4 separate regions of the Homo sapiens genome follow, and all the other regions are reported to be linked to region 2. The links are microRNA targets in miRTarBase. Many come from high-throughput screens and were not tested one by one. Region 2 holds a microRNA gene; each other region holds the end of a gene's coding sequence.
What was found. The annotated mature microRNA hsa-miR-6738-5p reads CGAGGGGUAGAAGAGCACAGGGG and lies in region 2 at 1,783-1,805, shown strand. An mRNA with a match to its seed (bases 2 to 7 or 8) in the 3' UTR can be bound and repressed. Matches are read on the target gene's strand: a 7mer-m8 pairs with bases 2 to 8, a 7mer-A1 pairs with bases 2 to 7 and ends in A, and an 8mer does both.

Region 1: miRTarBase lists HSD11B1L as a target of hsa-miR-6738-5p. Seed matches in the 3' UTR shown: 7mer-m8 at 2,546-2,552.
Region 3: the mRNA of ZC2HC1A is a reported target of hsa-miR-6738-5p. Seed matches in the 3' UTR shown: 7mer-m8 at 1,226-1,232 and 7mer-A1 at 2,209-2,215.
Region 4: the mRNA of FOXK1 is a reported target of hsa-miR-6738-5p. The part of its 3' UTR that is shown has no 7-base or 8-base seed match.

The regions. Positions count from the first base shown.
Region 1 is chr19:5,686,939-5,690,823 of GRCh38, reverse strand. It overlaps HSD11B1L (hydroxysteroid 11-beta dehydrogenase 1 like), which reads right to left. Exons shown (of 8, transcript NM_198706.3): 5 at 3,833-3,885; 6 at 3,449-3,542; 7 at 3,156-3,321; 8 at 2,302-3,071. The coding sequence ends at 2,879. It overlaps RPL36 (ribosomal protein L36), which reads right to left and starts at 529. Exons shown (of 4, transcript NM_033643.3): 1 at 497-529; 2 at 224-318. The coding sequence starts at 316. RefSeq lists enhancers at 1-226, 227-752, 808-857, 2,609-3,108 and silencers at 3,286-3,345, 3,586-3,735, 3,806-3,885.
Region 2 is chr1:155,949,229-155,953,113 of GRCh38, reverse strand. MIR6738 (microRNA 6738) reads left to right here and starts at 1,778; the gene lies at 1,778-1,841. ARHGEF2 (Rho/Rac guanine nucleotide exchange factor 2) reads left to right here. Exons shown (of 22, transcript NM_001162383.2): 15 at 286-486; 16 at 879-998; 17 at 1,128-1,195; 18 at 1,338-1,373; 19 at 1,581-1,631; 20 at 1,842-2,285; 21 at 2,632-2,815.
Region 3 is chr8:78,716,833-78,720,717 of GRCh38, forward strand. It overlaps ZC2HC1A (zinc finger C2HC-type containing 1A), which reads left to right. Exons shown (of 9, transcript NM_016010.3): 9 at 496-2,933. The coding sequence ends at 661. It also overlaps a transcript of IL7 not described here. Among named protein-coding and RNA genes, the nearest start is that of ZC2HC1A, 53 kb to the left of the region's middle.
Region 4 is chr7:4,762,050-4,765,845 of GRCh38, reverse strand. It overlaps FOXK1 (forkhead box K1), which reads right to left. Exons shown (of 9, transcript NM_001037165.2): 9 at 1-3,662. The coding sequence ends at 3,382. Among named protein-coding and RNA genes, the nearest start is that of AP5Z1, 12 kb to the left of the region's middle.

The sequences.
Region 1 (3,885 bases), not on the chromosome of region 2:
CCTCTGCCCCAGCGTGGATTGCACGGTTGGGAAAAACCCAGATGGGTGCCCGCCTTCGAGCACCAGGCAGGAAGTCCCACTCCCCCACCCCATCTCTTCCATTCAAGCCCCCCTTAGTTCTGCGCCCGAACGCGCGTTCTTTCAGGTCGAGAGCCTTTGCCCAAGCCATGCCCTCCGCCCTCCAAGAAACCCCCGACAACCTCCGCGCGGCACCCGCACTCACCCCGCGGCGTCGGCTGTGCCTGGGCTTGCTCACGTTCTTGGTCACTTTGTGGCCCTTGTTGAGGCCCACGGCCATAGGGTAGCGTAGGGCCATGGCTGCGGACAGCGACGGGGAGAAGGGGCGGAGGTGAGTACCGGCTCAGTTCCCGAGGCCCAGAGCCCCGCGTCCCGGCTCCTTCAGCCTCGCTCGCCACAACCAACCATCCTCCAACCTGCACAGAGGACCCGGGAGTCCGGATGGCGGCGGATACCGGCAGTGCGGGAAACCACTTACCTGCTGCTCTCCAGAGACGGCCGTGGCGGAAGGGCTGGCGCCGCGCGGAACTCCGGGATATCTACTCGGCTCAGGAGGCGCAGGCCAGAGAGGCAAGAACGGCACGCGCTCCCCCTGGCGGCTGGAGTCTTCCCCGCCGTTGCGCTGAGCATGCGCGACCGAGCTCCCTGAGCATGCGCGTTTACTCCTGCGAGCCCGGGAGCTGGAGTCGGAACCAGTGGAGGTGGCTATGGCTGCTCTCCTCCCTCTGCCTGTGAAATGAGTTCGAATCCCAACTCCGCCTATTTCGGGCCGACCCTGCATCGACGACATCACCTCTCAGAATTTCTTCACTTGTAGAGCGGGAATAATAATACCAAACTGTATGAACTGTTAAAACGCCCATTAGGCCGGGCGCGGTGGCTCACGCCTGTAATCTCAGCACTTTGGGAGGTCGAGGCATGTGGATCACGAGGTCAGGAGCTCGAGACCAGCCTAATACGGTGAAACCCCGTCTCTACTAAAAATACAAAAAATTAGCCAGGCGTGGTGGTGGGCACCTGTAGTCCCAGCTACTCGGGAGGCCGAGGCAGGAGAATGGCGTGAACCCAGGAGGCAGAGCTTGCAGTGAGCCGAGATCGTGCCACTGCACTCCAGCCTGGGCGACAGAGCAAGACTCCGTCTCAATAAATAAATAAATAAATAAATAAATAAATAAATAGCCAGGCGTGGTGGCATGCTCCTGTAATCCCAGCTACGCAGGAGGCTGAGGCAGGAGAATTGCTTGAGCCCAAGAGGCAGAGGTTGCAGTGAGCCGAGATCGCACCACTGCACTCCAGCCTGGGCGACAGAGCGAAACTCCATTTAAAAAAAAAGGTATTGGTTTTGTTATCAATTGGTCAAGCTCTAGACTAGGTCTGAATACAGCAACGTGTAATAGTGCCCCTTGCGGACATCTGATGTAATTTAGGTGGTGTAGGGACGGGACGCTAAATAACTGAATCGGGTGGCAGAAACACACAAGTTTCCAGTTTTTCTCCTTTAATGCTACTAATATACAAGAAGAGAGTCTCAATTTAGGGCTGCTCTAATTAGGGTTAGCGCTTTCATGTTTTTTCCAGACAGGGTCTTGCTCTGTCGCCCAGGCTAGAGTGCACTGCTGTAATCATAGCTTATTGTAGCCTTGACTTCCAGGGCTCAAGTGATCCTCCTGCCTTAGCCTCCTTAGCTGGGACCACAGGCACATGCCACCACGCCTGGCTAATTTTTTAATTAAAATATTTGTTTGTGGCCGGGTGCAGTGGCTGACACCTGTAATCCCAGCACTTTGAGAGGCCGAGACAGGGGGATCACCTAAGGCTAGGAGTTCGAGACCAGCCTGGCCGACATGGTAAAACCCCGTCTCTACTAAAAATACAAAAAGTCAGGCGTTGTGACCCACACCTGTAATCTGAACTATTTGGGAGGCTGAGGCACAAGAATCGCTTGAACCCCGGAGGCAGAGGTTGCAGTGAGCCTAGATCGCACCACTGCACTCCAGCCTGGGCGATAGAGTGAGACTCCGTCTAATAAATAAATAAATAAAGACAGGGTTTCACCATGTTGGCCAGGCTGGTCTCAAACTCCTGACCTCAAGTGATCTGCCCACCTTGACCTCTCAAAGTGCTGGGATTATAGGCGTGAGCCACTGCTCCTGGCCCTCTCAGCCTCCATTTCCCCACCTGTGAAATGGGATTGAGAGTCAAGGCCCCTGATACACACACCCCCTCCCGCTGCCCGCTGGCTGCTAGCAAATTGGAATTACCAAGGAATTTGAACAACAGATATGCAAGAGAAGAAGAGTTTTTATTCTCGAACAAGAGGCTGGGTCCAGCTCAGAACACACTCTTTCCCTCCTCCTCCCGCTCAGACCCTGCCACCAGGTAGACGAACAGTGTAGACGCCCCTGCAGGTGTGAAGAGTACCAGAGACCCCAGCTAGGGGAAGCTGGCAGGAGTTGGGGGGGTTCCTCCCAGATGGAATGAATGGAAAGAATAAATCAGGGACTTAAAGGCGCAGGCAGGAGATGGAGAGGGGTCCATGGGTGGCTCAAGGGTGGCGTGGCCTCTCTGAGCCTTAGTTTCCTCATCTGCAAAATGGAAGCAGTCACGTCATCAATCATGGCCAAACAGGTGAGGCCTTGCAAGTCCCCGACAAAGGCGCCTAACACGGGGCACCTGCACCTCCCAAGCCGTGACTGGTTCCAGGTGCCCGTCGTTTTTCTCGGTTTTGCTTTTCTGTCTTGATGACTTCATCTTGGGCTGTGGCCACCCTCTCAGGGGTGTCTCTGTGAGTGTTCTGGCTCCAGGGACAGTTGGAGGGAGGAACATTGCCGTCTGGGACTGGAGGGGCACCCCCCGGTGCTCAGGCTGCCGCGGCCGTGACGTTGAGCTCCTGGCGGATAAACCAGGCCCGCGGGCGCGGTAGCCAGCGCCGGAGCAAGCACAGCAGGCGGAAACGCCACGGGTAGAAGACGCCGGCCGCGCGCGTGGCGCCGCCGCGGATCACGGCCAGGGCTGCCTTGGGCCCCGGGGCCGCCTTGACCCTCGTGACTCCCCTGGGGACAGGAGGGCACGGTGGGGACTGCGGCTGGGGCTGGGCCATGGCCCCCAGCCCAGCCCCCAGCTTGTCCGGGCCTCACCTGACTGCCTCGGCGGCGGAGGCGCGATCTCGGAGGCCCAGGACGCACATGGTGATGGCCACGTTCACGTCCTGCACGTCCAGCTCCCGCCGCAGGGAGCCGAAGAAGCCGTCCAGCGCAAACTTGGCCGCCGAGTAGGGAGTGGAGAACGACGTGGGCACGCGGCCTGGGGGCGCGGACGGCAGCGGCTGAGTGGCTCCCCCTCGTCCGGGAAGCCTGCCCAGACCCTCCAGGCTCACCCGCATCGAGCTCCCCACTCCCCGTCCCGCAGAGCCGGGGCCGGGTGCACGCACCGAGCAGCGAGGACACCACCACCAGGGAGCCCTTGCTGTCCGTCAGGCTGGGCAGCGCCCGCGACGTCAGTTGCACGTAGCTCACAAAGTTTACCTGCAGGCGGCACTCGCGAGTCACCGGCAGAGGCGGAGCCCAGGGGCAGGGCGGGGCCAGAAACCCAGAGGGCGGGGCCAGGGCCGGGTCAGAGACGGGGCCAGAAACCCGGAAGGCGGGTCCGAGGGCGGGGTCAAGGCCGGAGCAGGGGCTTGGGCTAGGAGGGGCGTGGCTGGGGCGGGACGGGTGGAGAGCCCTCCCTGGAGAAGGCAGAACCCGGACCGCGAAGGGAACGGACCACCGGTCCCTGAGATAGAGGGGCGGGCCGGGGCCGCGGAGGAGCGGAGCACCTGCATGAGCCAGCGAGTTGCCTGGGGGCTGCGGGCTCGCGTGCCGGCCGGGG
Region 2 (3,885 bases):
TTTGTATTTTAAGTAGAGACAGGGTTTTGCCATGTTAGCCAGGCTGGTCTTGAACTCCTGGCCTCAAGCGATCCACCTGCCTTGGCCTCCCAAAGTGCTGGGATTACAGGTGTGAGCCACTACACCTGACCAACAGAAAGCTTTTTCTTTTTTATAAATGCCAAAATAACAAAATTAAGTCTGCCACACTGCCCCACCCTACCCCTCTCCCCTAGGGCTGTCCTCTACTGGCGCTCTTGCATACCCCTACGTCCTCTCATGTCCTCACTTGTTCCTTATCTGCAGTGGAGTTGCAGCAGAAGGACCGGGCACTGGTGGAGCTGCTGCGAGAGAAGGTCGGGCTGTTTGCTGAGATGACCCATTTCCAGGCCGAAGAGGATGGTGGCAGTGGGATGGCCCTGCCCACCCTGCCCAGGGGCCTTTTCCGCTCTGAGTCCCTTGAGTCCCCTCGTGGCGAGCGGCTGCTGCAGGATGCCATCCGTGAGGGTGAGGGAGCTCCCAGGGAAGAGTCCAGGCTCAAGCACTCACCGTCACAGAATGTGGACATGTGACTAGACATGGACAAACACAGACAAGTGGGATGCCAACCCTATAAACCATAAACGGCCCTGAGTGCCTCTTCTGGGCCAGTTCCTGGGAAAGGCAGGGGAGGAGGTGTGGTCCTTGCTGCTGCTCCATATCGTCCATGCTGCATGGACTCTGCTGCCTCGTAGGCATTTACTGCCCTTTACCTCATCAGTGGTTGTGTGAGTGAAACCCCACTGCCAGTGCAGGGGGCATTCCCCCAGATGCCCAAGTGTCCCACATGTGGGGGTGAATGGCATTCCCCTCAGGGTCCTGTGTCATTCCTGTTCTCACCTCTTCCTCTTTCCCCACAGTGGAGGGTCTGAAAGACCTGCTGGTGGGGCCAGGAGTGGAACTGCTCTTGACACCCCGAGAGCCAGCCCTGCCCTTGGAACCAGACAGCGGTGGTAACACGAGTCCTGGGGTCACTGCCAGTGAGTACCAGGGCAGGGGACCAAGGTAGTAGGTGGGAGGGGCCAAAGTTAGTAGAGTGGTACCAGGGATCAAGTGGTATCAGGGCCCCAGGGAAGTGAGCTCAGCCATCCTTTTCTCCTTCTCAACAGATGGTGAGGCCAGAACCTTCAATGGCTCCATTGAACTCTGCAGAGCTGACTCAGACTCTAGCCAGAGGGTAGGTCCTCAAGAGGTTCTGGGACTTGGCAAGAGGGTGGGAGAGGGACAGCCAGCCTCTGGATCCTCAACACAAAGCTGTCAGGGGCAGGCACCCAGGATTTGTGTGCCTGCTGACTCCCCATTCTTGCCCATTTCTGCAGGATCGAAATGGAAATCAGCTGAGATCACCGCAAGAGGTGAGATGGGAATTGATGGTATAGGAGACTGAAGGGAGGATGTTCTTAGTCTGAGTAGTTAGAGCCCAGTTTGGAGTGGGGTGGGGAAAGCGTCTACATTCAAGTATGTCTCCGGATCCTACTGTCCCCACACCCACCCTTGTTCAACTTTTGGGCAGTTCTCCCATCCTAAAGCTGGGGCCCTGTTCCCACCCTGTCTGTCCTCAGGAGGCGTTACAGCGATTGGTCAATCTCTATGGACTTCTACATGGCCTACAGGTCAGTAGGACAAGGGCTTGAATGGGGAAGGGGAGGAGCCAGGCTAGAGATGCCTGTTTAGGTGGGGCATGGTCATCCCAACAGGCCTTTCTAAATACCCTCCCAATCCAAGCTCTCCAGGAGCGATGATCTGGGCCTTGGAGGGTGAAGGCGAGGGGTAGAAGAGCACAGGGGTTCTGATAAACCCTTCTGCCTGCATTCTACTCCCAGGCAGCTGTGGCCCAGCAGGACACTCTGATGGAAGCCCGGTTCCCTGAGGGCCCTGAGCGGCGGGAGAAGCTGTGCCGAGCCAACTCTCGGGATGGGGAGGCTGGCAGGGCTGGGGCTGCCCCTGTGGCCCCTGAAAAGCAGGCCACGGAACTGGCATTACTGCAGCGGCAACATGCGCTGCTGCAGGAGGAGCTACGGCGCTGCCGGCGGCTAGGTGAAGAACGGGCAACCGAAGCTGGCAGCCTGGAGGCCCGGCTCCGGGAGAGTGAGCAGGCCCGGGCACTGCTGGAGCGTGAGGCCGAAGAGGCTCGAAGGCAGCTGGCCGCCCTGGGCCAGACCGAGCCACTCCCAGCTGAGGCCCCCTGGGCCCGCAGACCTGTGGATCCTCGGCGGCGCAGCCTCCCCGCAGGCGATGCCCTGTACTTGAGTTTCAACCCCCCACAGGTAAGGTGGCCTGCAGTGGTGAATGGACCTGGGGTGGACATAAGGGTCCATGGAGCCCGAAAGAAATTGGGCCATTGGGGATTTGAGCCCAAATGCAATCAGTCAACTGACTTGAAGGATATTGAGATACTGGTTGGAGAACTGAAAAGAAATGTAGATGGGTGCAGGGGTGGAGGAAATTAACTCGGGTCGTGGTGCTGAAAGAGGCCAGTTGGTGGTGGATCTCCTGAAGGGGACTCATGGGTGAGCCCCAGGGGGGAGAGCTGCTGCCTTCAGCCAAGCAGAACCTCCAATCTTCACACTACTCAGTCCCTGACCTGCTGTTCTTCCTGCCCACTGTCCACAGCCCAGCCGAGGCACTGACCGCCTGGATCTACCTGTCACTACTCGCTCTGTCCATCGAAACTTTGAGGACCGAGAGAGGCAGGAACTGGGGAGCCCCGAAGAGCGGCTGCAAGACAGCAGTGACCCTGACACTGGCAGCGAGGAGGAAGGTAGCAGCCGTCTGTCTCCGCCCCACAGTCCACGAGGTGAGACCCTGGCGGAGACATGGACCAGAGGTAGAGTGCAGCCTGGGTACAGGCCATTGGGCTGTGGCTTCCAAATGGGCCCTAACTGACCTGTGAGGCTTGTAGTAACTCTAGGGAGGGACTTCCTGTTTTGTCTGATGATGAATGGGTGGTGGAAGTCTAGGAAGCAGGAGGGGCCTCTCTCCTCCAACTGGTTGGTGATTCCCAACCTTTAGAAGTAAAAACAGATTCTTTTTTAAAAAGGCATGGCGGCTCAGGCCTGTAATCCTAACACTTTGGGAGGCCAAGGCAGGAGGATCGCTTGAGCTCAGAATTTTGAGGCCAGCCTGGGCAACATAGTGAGACCCACCTTCTCTACAAAAAAAAATTCATTTATTTATTTTTTTATTTTATTTAATTAATTTATTTCATTATTATTTTTTGAGATGGAGTCTTGCACTGTTGCCTGGGCTGGAGTGCAGTGGCGTGATCTTGGCTCACTGCAACCTCTGCCTTCCAGGTTCAAGCGATTCTCCTGCCTCAGCCTCCCAAGTAGCTAGGATTACAGGCGCCCACCGCCACGCCCAGCTAATTTTTGTATTTTTAGTAGAAATGGGGTTTCACTATGTTGGCCAGGTTGGTCTTGAACGGCTGACCTCGCGATCCACCTGTCTTGGCCTCCCAGAGTGTCGGGATTACAGGCATGAGCCACCACGCCTGGCTAAATTTTTTTTTTTTTTGAGATGGAATTCTCACTCTGTCGCCAGGCTGGAGTACAGTAGTGAGATCTCCGCTTACTGCAACCTCCGCCTCCCAGGTCCAAGTGATTCTCCTGCCTCAGACTCCCGAGTAGCTGGGACTACAGGCACATGCCTCCACGCCCAGCTAATTTTTGTATTTTTAGAAGAGATAGGGTTTCACCATGTTGCCCAGTCTGGTCTCAATCTCTTGACCTCATGATCCGCCTGCCTTGGCCTCCCAAAGTGCTGGGATTACAGATGTGAGCCACTGCACCCGGTCTATTTTATTTTATTTTATTTTATTTTATTTTATTTATTTATTTATTTAAGATGGAGTCTCACTCTGTCACC
Region 3 (3,885 bases), not on the chromosome of region 2:
TGTGATAGTGAGTTCTCAATGTATCTGATTGTTTAAAACTGTATAGTACCTGCCCCTTCTCTTTTTTCCTCCTGCTCCCACCATGTAAGACATGCTTGCTTCCCCTTTGCCTTCTGCTATGAATAAGTTTCCTGAGGCCTCCCCAACCAAGCTTTCTGTACAGCCTGCAGAACTGTGAGTCAGTTAAACCTCTTTTCTTTATAAATTACCCAGTCTCAGGTAGTTCTTTATAGCAATGTGAGAACAGACTAACACAGAAAGCATGGCTGCATTTGGTCATGGTAAATTCTCGTAACACAGATAAATATAATGTTAAAAAAAAATGTTAGAATTTTAGTATTTACTAACAAGGATTTTTTAAAATTTGAACTAGAGGAATATTAAAAACGAGATTAAGCAGGCTAATTGTTATATTTATGTCCTGTTTCTCCAGGGTTATGGGTTGAAAACTACTGATACAAACTTTATCTTTTCATTGTTTCTTTACTTTTTTAGGCCAGATGGGGACTGTGCATCTTCCCTTAATGGTGGAAATATTAAAGGCATTGAAGGACATTCACCTGGAAACTTACCAAAATTCTGCCATGAGTGTGGGACTAAATACCCTGTAGAATGGGCCAAATTTTGCTGTGAATGTGGCATTCGAAGAATGATTCTATGAATAGAATCTCAAAAAAAAAAAAAAGCCAAGTTCAGAGTTTATGATTATTGCTGCTTGGACAGCTAGAGCACATCCTCTAGTTAGTTTGTGCTAAAAATACTCGAAATACCATTTCCAGTTAATTTTGAAGTGTAATCTTTTGGCTATATAATGTGTGTATGTTTATATGTGTACATATACTGTATATAATAAATATCTGATACCCCAGACTGTGTCATTCAAGGAAATATTCACTTATCTGTCAGAAAATAATTTCAAATGGAACAATTAATTTAGGTGTTACTTTTCTGTTGTTGTTAAAGCACGTTAAGTACATTTCCACAAACTCTCATACTCTAGTGCTTAGCCCTTCAAGCTTTAGGATAAGTATAACTTTGAGCAAAAAATTTGGATAAACATTTGTATTATTGGTGCCTATCTTCAGATAGTATCATAGTAGGATAGATGCTGGGAATTTTGTAATTAAAGAGAACAGTTTTAGTTACCATTAGGTATGTTAAGGTCACTCCTGTAGAGCATGTCAACAAATTATTTCATAAATCCGAAAAACTAAGAGAAAAAAAAACCCCTCTATTAGTTACGTAATTTAAACATCTTACTTGTTTTGTAAAAGTGTAATTATGCAATTTCCTTTTCAAATACACAAGACTAAAAATACAAATCTATCTTGTTCTATTTATAACTGATTTTTTTTAGTTCTGTATGTATTCGTTGAACATATTTTTTTACTTCCAATTGTTTTTCCAGATTTCACTTTTCCTCTTTTTCCATAACCCGTGAAGATAGTTTTAATTTGCTAGTTCATTTTTTGCTGTATTTGAAAATGTAATTATTTAATATAGAAGGCACAGAATTCCCTGCAAAATCTTACATGTTTAAAAACATATAATTTTTTGTATCTGAATTTAGAATAAATCATTTTAATGCATCTTAAATCACGTCACCTAATCATAATAGTTGTGGTAACTAATCATTAGTGCAGAGCATGCAGATAAAAAATATTTGAATTTTTTTTTCTTGGAAGTACATGTAGTTATGAGTAGGTTAAGAGAATATCTAATTTTCCTACTCTTTTTTTCATCTTTAGCATTTAATGTTGAAACACCATTCACGTCACATTAAGGACCCACTGAAAATGTATTGTTTTAATGCATAATTGACTTACCTAATTAAACATACACACAAATTTAATTATTTTTTTCTCTTTAACCTGATCACGACACAGCTCTTAATCATTGTCACTTTCAGTATATCATAGTAGTTAGTAGTAGATTGCCTTGATGGCAGTAATTCTGTAGTAATTTCTATTCAATCAAACCTAAGAGAGCTTTGATCTTACTGTAAAGGTACAAACAAATCTCTTATATAATTCCTAGCTTTTTTTTTTGTTTATGATTCTGATCAACTATAAGACACAATGTAAAGAATTGTGGCTTATAATTTATCTGAAATTTATTAGCTTAGTTTAGTTTGGGCAGGAGTTACAAACTTAATAGGAATTGTCATTTTACTTACAGTTTATTTCCTGATTAGTTGTTAATTTTTTTCCCCTCAGTTATCTTTATTCAGTCTTATTGGTCAAAACAAAGAAACAAATAGTCCATCAACTAAAATAAGCTGTAATGAATTTAGAAGATGAATGCATATATTAGATTTCCATTTAAATCACTTCTGTTATAAATCATATAAAGAACTTTAAACTTGTTTTATCTAATACTGAGCACTGTTTTTTTGTCAAGTATTTTTTTAAGACCACATAATTCTTTTTGTCTGCTCAAGGAAAGGATAGATAAATAATTGGCACACATTTGTTTCTCACTGAATTTTACAGTAGTAAATTAATGTTATAATGTACCACATGGAGATGAGTTGGTAAGAAATCATCTAGTTCCAGAGCCCAGAGATTATAAACAGTAGGTGAAATAGATTTATGACTTACGAAATATGTTGTGACAATATATTTAAATGCATTTTTATATTACTTGCATATTCTCACATTGATTTGTGCAATAGTTCAGTTTTAAAAAAAATCTTCCTATGCATCATGTATTTTATTTTTATTTATTTTCACAAGTATTTGACAGTATGGTAGAATAAAAGATGATTGTAAGATTAAAAATGTAAAAATTGCTTATGTATTATTCTGAATTGTGTTAGGTTGAAAAAGATGATTGTGGTGACTATTATTTCTTGTCCACTATTTGTTTTTTGTTTTTTCACCAATAATGTCTTCATATTTGAACCTATTCAATAAAGACATGAAGCATAAAAATGCTAGTTCGTATTCACTGATGTCTTTTAGCCATACATAGAAAGATAGGAACCTAATGAAATATAAATAAAATATTTGAAGTCAAAAATAACAGATTTTTACAAATAAAAAGTAGCTTTTCATTGGCTGTATTCTTATGCCATCAGCTTTTTAAAATGTATTACCATTTTATTGAAGTGTTTTCTGACATCAAAGTATTAGAAATGTTTTTGTTACAAGTTTTTTAAGGCATTATCTTCATAGACTATTTAGCAGTCACAAACATTTGTGATGTCAAGGTTAATAGGAAACATGGACGTTTCTAGTTAAGAGCTATACAGTTTAATGGCAAAGTTATTTGTGATGAATAATATTTTAGACCACATTTAAAATTAAAAAGGAATTTAGTGAAATTTCAGATTAGACATGTTTGATTTTTTTCCTTAGGTTAGAGGTGAACATTTAACCATGAGTAGAAGCTCTGGAGATGAAAAAATATTAGAAAACACAGATAACAAAGAATCATCAGAACACTTGGGTATTTATTTTCATTGAATGTGTATGTATTTTACATGGTAAGTATTTTTTAGTATTGAGGTACGTTGATTTTTTTCAAATGACTATATTATTAAATAGAGCTGTGGAGAAATTAAAGCCACAATTTTTATTTTCATTTAGAAAAATTTCAGTTAAATGTTACTCAATGCTCCTCATTTTAAACACAGTTTTGCTTAGCTCATATGTGAATTGCTTTTTAGCCACTAGAGGGTGCATTTGGATAATTATTTCATAATATTACGGCCTATTCTTTTTAAGGGCCTCTCAGCAATATACATATGATTTTTTGACAACACGAAACTACAGAGATTTATAAGGGTAGTTTTCTTTGTTTTGTTGTGATTTTAATAATGTGTTTATATTTTAGAAATTTTGCCCAGCTCAACTGGGGCACCAGGATTGCAGTAATTGATAG
Region 4 (3,796 bases), not on the chromosome of region 2:
ATGCCTTTGCTCTACTTAAGACGTTCTTTTTGGGACTTACCTCCTAGCCAAAGCAGGTGTTTTCTTGTATTTGATAAACCTGGCAATTTATCCAGCAGGAGTCAGGAGACAGAAGCGGGTTACTGGGCCCAGGGGCTCTGAGGGAGCCCCTTTCCGAACAGGGCAAAGCAGGAGGGGCCCTTCCCAAAGCCACTACTGTGACCTGCTGTTCTCATCCGCTGTGGACCGTGCCCCCAGTCCCTGGTGACCAGAGAACAGGCCCTCAGCCTCTGCCTCCCCAGTGACCCCAGAACGGGGCTGGAATCAGCTACTTTTGCTCCCCACATTCCTGCACATTGCCCGGGTCAGCTCACCCTTGAGAACCTAGAGAAGGTTCTTGGGTCCTGGCTCCACACGGCTCAGGGTCACAGGCCGCCCAGGCTGGGGGCTGAGGCTCTCCCGGTCCCCCTGGCCTGTGCTCTTGCTTCTGCGAAAGCGCCTGGCTGGGAGGCGCTTGCTGGGCTGGCTCAGGGCACACAGGGAGGGCTTTGTGGCCGGGACATGCAACCCTTTTGGGCCCTGTCCCTTCCTGGGCCTCTGGCTACCGGTTCCAAGACAAGTTCCGGCATGAGCCAGGCATGGTACCTGCTCAGATGACCAAAAACTCTTTCAAAATCTCATGGTTATGAGCCCAGAGCAGTGGATCCAGGACCCAGGCCTCCTCTCCTTGCCCTCCTCTCCCTGCCCTGCTCCGAGTCTGAGCCGACCCCTAGGACCACGTCCCTTCATCCCTCTTTGCAGTCCCCGCAGAAGCTAGACAGTGCAGAACCCCACACGGCAGAATGCAGCCCCGGGGTCCTGTGCTCGCCACCTCCCGGCTCCATCCACCACCCCCTTTCCACGCCCTTGGCAATGAAGCAGTGAAATCAGAGAACGCTACCGCTAACAGGAAGAATGCGCTGCGTCTCAGAAGCCAGGAAACCACGTGGGTCAGGGCCAGCCTGAGCAGACCAGGCCAAAAGGCGACCTCGATTTGTGACCAACACGTGGTGCAATCCCAGCACGCGGCGCTCCCTGCAGACATCAGCTTGTATTGAGGAGGCCAACCTGCAGTGGCCCAGAAGCAAACAGAGGTCTCCCATCAGGGTGGCCACAGGCAGCCCTGAGGACATATAGTCACCACGCGGGAGAGAGCAGCAGCAGGTAATCACAGAGGCCCCCCGTGACGGGCGCTCCCGGGAGGGCGCCGGCTCAGGCCACACAGGCACCGGTGTCGGGGAGCCACCTCCAACCCCCACCCCCCGTTCTCTCACGCCATGCACGCACACACCAGGCACCACGGAAAGAAAAGGCCCACAGACAACAGCAGGCGACACAAGTGTGGAACGGGGCGCAATCTCTCACCCTCCACGGACGTAACTGCACCCAGGACAGCCGGCTGTGTTCATCCTGCCCCCGTTTCTCTGAAACCTCACCCAGGGCAACAGGTACGGACTTCCACAAAGAGCTTATTTCCCATGGAAAGGTTAGTGCCATAGAAACGACTCAATTCGGGGGGCTTAGAAAAACAACGGGACACGGGAAGGAAACCGAACAAGGGGTTTTCTCTATCTAGGTGGAAGGAGGGGGCCCACAGAGGTTCTGCACTTGTCCTGGGGGACGGGGACTCTGATGGGGGCCACGGGCGACCCCACTCCACTGCACAGCACGTGTGTCCTCCCGCACTGCCTCGGAATCACTTTGAAAAGTGTTCTCCCTTCTTCTTCAGGGAGACACCTGTCCAGCCACCTCCCTCAAATGCCCTCCAGGCACCTGGGTCCCTCTGCAGCTCTCCCGCCAGGGCCTGGGCAGAGGCTGCTTTGCTGGTGAGAGGCTGTGATGCGGAGGACGGGCGATTTCCAAGAACCACTGCTCCTCAGGCACTTCCGGAGCTCTGCGTCGAATCTGTCGCTGTTTCTCGTTGTGGTCCCGGACAGGAGAGCCAGCGCCGGAGCGGCCAGCAAAACTGACAGCTGACCTTTACGAGGACGCACTTCGCATCTCCAAGACACACTGAAGGACTCCTCTCTCCTTCCTGAGCTGGGCTCAGCATTAGACAGCTCTGGCTCAACGCTGCTTGGTGACAAAGATCCAGGAACCACTGGCTGTCTTAATGGAAGTGCAGGAGGGGGCTTCCTCAGGGACCCCAGAACCACCCAACTGGCTGGAGCATCCCGTCCTCCGGTTCTCACCGTGTGGCAAACAAAACCAGTCGCGTTGGCGGGGGCTGGGCGTGGAGGCACAGGCCTGCTCACCACTGCTGCTGGGGTGGGGTCTCCTGCTCACGGACAGCCCAGGGAGGGGCCCTGGAGTTTCAGGCAGGAGAAATGGTTCCAATTGAAAACAGCAGATCAATGTGGGAGTGGTGAGGACTCTGCAACTGGGTGAAAAAGCAGCTGGAGCAGATGGCGTTTGGCACTGTTAGGTCCCCATGTGGCCGTCAGCACCGGGACATCGGAGCCACGGATAATTCGGGAAGGTCTGGTCTGCAGAGCAGCGGCCCCAATCGTCCCCAGCAGCGCGATGTCTGCGGCCGGCGGATCCAGGCTCACCTTTCATCCTAGGAACCTTCCACCGCGAACGCCAACCCAGGAAGCCGCTGCTCTTACTTGAAGTTATCAGACAGAGCGGCAGGTTTACTCTTCGAGGGGATTAAACCCAGCGGGAACCCTGGACCTACGGCCGGTCATCAGACGTCAACAGGTAAAATCCTCAAAAATACATGATCCCTTTTGTGTCTGTCTCAGGTGTACAATGAAGTCTGAATTCCATGTTTAAACAAACAAAGAAAAACTTGGGGTCTGAAGTGAAATCGGACACCCCCCGAGTTAATGCCAACACTCTCTATGTCACGTTCCGGGCGGAGAGGCTGTTAGGTGGTCCGTGGCTCGGCAGCTCCTGGCTTCCCAACAGGCATCTGTCCGGTGCCCGGGCCTCCCCGGCAGCCTTGGTGTGTGCCTTGCTGCGTTTCTGTCTGTCCTCCCGGACAAAGGCGGCTGGCCGTGCAGCGCGGAGCGGAGGGGCTGTCTTGACACATTCCTCAAGATGCTGAGCTCCAACCTCCTCCCCATGCCCGACAGGGAGGCCTGGGGAGAGGAGGTGGTGCCGAGGGAGAAGGAAAGGAAAGCAAAGAATTCCCAGAATCATACAATCAGTTGTCTGAACTTGTTTATGTGTTTTTGTCTTAAACCACGGGAAGGCAGGCGATCAAATGGAAAGGGCTGGGTGTGTCCAGGTGCCGCCGATGCCCACAGGCCGCCGCGGGCTGTTCTCCTCCGTCTGTGGGTGCGGCCGCCTGAGCTGCCGGGTCCAGCTTCGGGGTCGCCGCTGGGTGAGTCCCACTCCCCCGCGTTGCAGGTGACCTCACTCCCCGGTGCCTGGCCCCTGGGGGCCGGCAGCTGCGATCACTCCAGCCGGTGTGGTTACAGCACCACTGGGCTCCTCCACCCGGGACCTTTTGACCTCGGGCTCTCCAGTGGAAGAGGCGGAGGCAGAGGCGGTGGTGGCAGTGGCTGGGGTGGTGGTGGCCGTGGCCGCGACGGCTGCTGCTGGCTCCTTGGGCCCCACCTCGCACACCCGGGTGACCACCACCGGCGCGGATGAACTCGCTTGGGTCGCAAGGAGCTGCAAAGGGCTGGTGAGGGCTGGAGTGGAGGAAGAAGAGGGTTACTCTGGGGTCTGGTTAGGACCCAGCTGCTTTTTTCAAGTCCCCTATACAGGGGCTAAGCCACCAAGCCGGAACCGGAGGTCAGTGCACCCCTGCCAGGCAGGACGGCTA